Regions from separate parts of the Homo sapiens genome. Here region 2 is linked to region 1. Evidence: fine-mapped expression QTL. A gene starts in region 1. The other region holds a variant in brackets. All regions are shown on one strand. Distances are from middle to middle.

The links. PIP is the estimated chance that this variant, and not a neighbour inherited with it, causes the effect.
Region 2: its variant is fine-mapped to the expression of RNF7 in whole blood (INTERVAL, PIP above 0.99).

Annotation. Positions count from the first base shown.
Region 1 is chr3:141,736,736-141,739,519 of GRCh38, forward strand. RNF7 (ring finger protein 7) reads left to right here and starts at 1,563. Exons shown (of 3, transcript NM_014245.5): 1 at 1,563-1,781. The coding sequence starts at 1,607. RefSeq lists enhancers at 1,106-1,155, 1,196-1,245, 1,356-2,035, 1,596-1,835, 2,036-2,714 and silencers at 1,336-1,595, 1,856-2,035.
Region 2 is chr3:141,692,897-141,695,680 of GRCh38, forward strand. It overlaps the pseudogene LRRC78P. Among named protein-coding and RNA genes, the nearest start is that of RNF7, 44 kb to the right of the region's middle. The variant C/T (reference allele first, on the strand shown) is at 1,583.

The DNA of each region.
Region 1 (2,784 bases):
ACTGCATCCTCTACCTCTCTCATGAGGCTTTCCCTCACTGCATCCTCTACTCTCTCATGAGGCTTTCCCTCACTGCATCCTCTACCTCTCTCATGAGGCTTTCCCTCACTGCATCCTGTACCCTCACAGCCCTTAACACACCACTCAACAAATACGCATTTGCATCTAACCAAATGTGACCCTGTGTCCATATTTATGTTTCTGTATATTAATGCATTCTTGTTTCCCCTGCCAGGCTCCATTAGTCTGGTTAGCTTTTGCCCAGGTATCAGGAAATGAGGGGATGGGGAGAGGCTCAGAATCCAAACTTGACAGAGTAGCTGTCCACCACTAGGTGATGGTGGGGTCAGGCATCTCCTTAGGCTGGCTGTGCTTCTGTTTTCTTTTCAATGGAGATACCGGCTTTCTTGGAAACACATGTGATGGTGGGCTAGCCGTAGAAGCACTACTATAATAACGATGTGATCTTTGTCATTTCACTTCTTCAGACCTCATTAGTCCTACATATAAAAAGAGGAAGTTAAACTAGCTCAAATGTACTGAGCAGAAGGAATGGAGACTGTGCAGCTGAGGGAGCGGGGCCTGAAAAATAAGTGTGGGTTGTGTCGCCACACACCGGGACTCCTGGGATCCCGACCTCTTTTAGCGGTCAAAAGAGGGCAAACTAGTTGCCTAACAATATTTAGAGCTATTTCTCTCTTTTCACTCTCATTCTACGAGTGTACACCGGAGTTTCTAGCAACTACATGGTATGTGAAGTCATCCCTCTAATGATAACCTGTAATGAGGTTACTACTGTGATTTTTAATGAATACATTTTAAAATGTTTTAATTTCTTCAAAAGCAAACATTAATCTCTACATATGTGTGTATACATATACAGGAAATGTATGTATATATGAATATACATATATTCATTGTATATGTGTATATATATTCATACATAATATGTGTGTGTGTATATATATATATATTTACACATTTCCTACATAAATAAAAGTTCTTTAAGGTCCTAATAATTTTTAAGTGAAAAGGAGTCCTGGGACCAAAAAGTTTTGAGAATCACTGAACCAGATTTCTAGATCTTTAAGATCATTTATTCACTCAACAAATAATTGTGCCTCCTGTGGCCAGGCATTTTGCAGATACGGAGGATAATGTGGTGATAGCAACATGTTTCCTGCTCTGATAGAGTTTTACATTTGGGAGGGAAGAGACAAACGAATAAATTAACAAGATAATTTCTGAGAGCAGTAGGTTTAATGAAGCCGTAAAGCAGGACACATATCCCTGCACAATCTGTGCGCCTGCTCAGACGTAACACCCCGCAGCGCAGCAGGCAGATTCAGCGGCGTCGCCCCATAAGGGCCCGAGCCCTCTCAGTTGGCCTAGGACGGCGAGGGCGGGGCCTGCCCGCCCCCCTGGCGCTGGCGTCAGGTGACGTCACTGTGCCGCGCCAGCCAATCGTGGGCAGCCGGGGTCTAGGCACCACGGTGGCTGGCGGCCTGCGGGCGGCGCTGTGGCCCGTCGGGCGGCTCCACAGAGCCGCCCTAGCCTTCCGCCTTCCCCAAGCCAACGTCTCCGCCGTCGGCTCCGCGGCGCCGCCATGGCCGACGTGGAAGACGGAGAGGAAACCTGCGCCCTGGCCTCTCACTCCGGGAGCTCAGGCTCCAAGTCGGGAGGCGACAAGATGTTCTCCCTCAAGAAGTGGAACGCGGTGGCCATGTGGAGCTGGGACGTGGAGTGCGATACGTGCGCCATCTGCAGGGTCCAGGTGATGGGTAAGCGCTGCACGCGAGTCCAGGGCCGCCCTGCGGCCTCCGGGAGCCGACCTCGGGGTTGGGAAGGGACGGGCGTCCGTCAGAAGCCTCGGAAAGTGCCCTGCCTGGGAGAGTGGGTGGAGGTCGCCCTGCCCCGGCGCCGGAGGAACGCGGAGCCACGCTCCTGCTGCGGCTCCTGAGGGCTGCGGCCGCCGCCTGGGGCTGCGGGGTTGTGCAACAGGCGCCCTGCGCCGGGTGGTTGGTGTTCTAGGGAGAGAGACGGGCAATAAACGGAGTTAAACAAGGTAATTTCAGGTAGTGATGGGTGTGACCAAGAAAGTAAAACCGGGTGATTGTTGGGAACTAGCAGGAAACACTTCGGTTTGTGTGTCCAGCCCCAGCCCCACCTCTAAAAGCTCAACACAAGGTGGTCAGGGTAAAGGCCGTGATTCAGCAGTGAACTTTAATAGTCTTGGTCACCACCAAAGTGATGCTCCAGAGTCATCTTCCACAAAACGACACCCTTAGTTCTCCTCGAGGGACGCAGGAAAGTGTTCATAGCCATTGCATTTCCGGATTAGCTTACCGCCGCTCTTCGAATGGCTTTTAAATCTGGATTGATTTAAGACGGGTCAGATAGCACTAGCGTGGCTTGAAGGGAACAGTGTGGTTCAAGAATATCTAAGTTTCATGGAAGCTGAAGAATTGTAAGCCCTTTTTTCAGAAACGTAAAACTTCACCTCCATCACACCCCCCTCTCCATATTGGATGCCATTTCCTGGAGAAGATACTGTGCTGCTCTGAGTCATGCCTTTGTGGAGAACCCTCTTACAAATATGTCTTCTTTCTGTGATATTTTGAGTTAAAATATTAGACCAAGTGAAACTTTTCAGAACAGCTTAATCTTGTTATATTTTATATGGTTCTAAGAACTCAGACCACTTTGAAAAGCAGGTGCTATTTAAATGCAAGTTGTATTTTCAGATAGGGCATTTAAAATTACTATGAGACCCTCTTCAGTGGA
Region 2 (2,784 bases), 44 kb before region 1:
TGTAAAGTGAAAAGATGAGGAGAAAAATTGATCTTGAGGGACAGAAGTTGGAAGGCTAGCTGCTTCTTTAGTTACCTTATTAGCATAAGCGTTGCCTTGAGCAATGGGATCTGATGCCTTTTGATGGCCCTTGCATGAATGACCCTAGCTTCCTTGCAAGTAGAGCAGCTTTAAGAAGAGTTTTTATTAAGGAGGCATTAATGATGAAGGACCCTTGTGTAGTGAGGAAATTTCTTTCTGCCCATATAACAGCATGGTGGTGCAGGATATGGAAGGCATATTTAGAGTCAGTGTAAATATTGACACATAGTCCCTTTGCAAGAGTGAGGGCCTGAGTTAAGGCAATGAGTTCGGCTTGCTGAGAGGTAGTGGAGCGGGGCAGAGCAGTAGCCTCAAGGATAGATGTGGAAGATACTATAGCATAGCCTGCCTTTGCTGGTGAGTGGCGAATGGGCCTGGAAGAACTATCATCAATAAACCAAGTGTGGTCTGGGTGGGGAACAGAAAAGAGGGAAATATGGGGAAATGGGGAGAATGAATCATTTAGTTAGGAAGGCAAAACCAGGTATCCAAAGGTGAAAGTACCTAACCATGTGTAGGAAGGAAAGGAGTTGTTTTGTAGAAGGAGTTGGGGTTTGGAAGATTAGCCAGACATGATCAGCAGGGAGAGAACCTGTGTTTTTATGAAGAATTATGCCAAGATAGGTAATGGATGAGGAAGAAATTTGGGCTTGACTGAAGTAATGGGGGCTGTCCCTGAAACCTTGCAGCAGTACAGCCCAGGTAAGTTGCTGAGGCTGATGGGTGTCAGGGTCAGTCCAAGTGAAAGTGAAGAGAGGCTGGGATGAAGGGTGCAAAGGAACAGTAAAGAAAGCATGTTTGAGATTCAAAACAAAATAATGGGTTATGGAGGGGAGGTATTGAGGATAGGAGAGTATATGGGTTTGGCACCATGGAGTGGATAGGCAAGACAATTTGGTTGATAAGGTGCAGATCCTGAACTAACCTGTAAGACTTGTCCAGTTTTTGGACAGGTAAAATGGGGGAATTGTAAGGAGAGTTTATAGGCTTTAGAAACCCATGCTGTAGCAGGCAAGTGATAACAGGCTTTAACCTTTTTAAAGCCTGCTGTGGGATGGGATATTGGCGTTGAGTGGGGTAAGGGTGATTAGGTTTTAATGGGATGATAAGGGGTGCATGATTGGTCATCAAGGTAGGTGTAGAGGTATCTTATATTTGTGGATTAAGCTAGGGAGACACAAGGGGAGGCTGCGAAGGAGGCTTTGAACTGGGGAAAAGGGGAGCAATGAGGTGTGGCTGTAGCCCAGGAATAGTGAGGGAAGCAGATAATTTAGGTAAAATGTCTCAACCTGATAAGGGAGCTGGGCAGGTGGGGATAATTAAAAAGAAGTGCATAAAAGAATGCTGTCCAAGTTGGCATCAGAGTTGGGGAGTTTTAAGAGGCTTAGAAGCCCGGCCGTCAGTACCCACAACAGTTATGGAGGCAAGAGAAACAGGCCCTTGAAAAGAAGGTAATGTGGAGTGGGTAGCCTCTGTATTAATTAAGAAGGGGACGGACTTA[C/T]CCTCCACTGTAAGAGCTATCCATGATGGTCCAGGAGGATTTTTAGGTAATCAGGCAGCATCAGTCTTCAGCCACTAAGCCTAGAAGATCTGGGAAGGAGTTAGTCAGAGAGCTTTGGGCCAGAGTTCCAGGGGCTCTGGGAGTGGCTGCCAGGTGAGTTGGACAGTCTGATTTCCAGTGGGGTCCCACACAGATGGGACATGGCTTAGGAGGAATCCCAGGCTGTGGGCATTCCTTGGCCCAGTGGCCAGATTTCCAGCACTTGAAGCAAGATCCTGGGGGAGGAGGTCCTGGAGGAATGCCTGGCCGCTGCAGTTCAGGCATTTTGAAGTTCTTCTGTGCTGGAGATGTGGCTGGGGTTTCTCTCACAGCGGAGGCAAGTAATTGCAACTCTTCTCTATTATTGTCCACCTTGAAAGCGAGGTTAATTAAGTCCTGTTATGGGGTTTGAGGGCTGGAATCTAATTTTTAGAGCTTTTTCTAATGTCAAAAGCAGATTGGGTAATACAATGTATATTGAGAATAAGACAGCCTTTTGGCCCTTCTGGGTCTAGGGCGGTAAAGGGTCCGAGGGCTGTTGCCAAATGGGCCATGAACTGGGCTGGGTTTTTATATTTGATGAAAAAGAGCCTAAATGTTAACTGATTTGGGAGAGGTCGGATAAAGAAGAAGGAGCACTAACCTTGACTATGCCTTCAGCTCCAGCTACCTCTTTAAGAGGAAATTGTTGGGCAGGTCGGGGAGGGCTAGTCATGGAATGAAACTGTAAGCCAGACAGGGTGTGAGGAGGGGAGGTGATAAAAGGATTATAGGGTCAGGGAGTGGAGGCTGAGGAAGAATTGGGACCTGGCTCGGCCTGGCAAGGAGCAGTCTGGGGAGGAGGGAAGAGGTCAGATGGGTCCGTAGAAAAGGAAAATTGAAAAGACTCAGCAATGCTTGGGGTTGGGACTGAAGGGACAGGAGGGAGGGAAAGAAGGAAGATTTGGGATGAGTCGCATTGGCAACAGAGACTAGGGAGGAGCCGACGTATAAAAGAATGCCTGGACATCAGGCACTTCAGACCATTTGCCCATTTTACGACAAGAATTATCTAGATCTTGTAGGATGGAGAAATTGAAAGTGCCATTTTCTAGCTATTTGGAGTCATTGTCAAGTTTGTATTGGGGTCAAGTGGTATTGTAGAAGAAAATAAGGCATTTAGG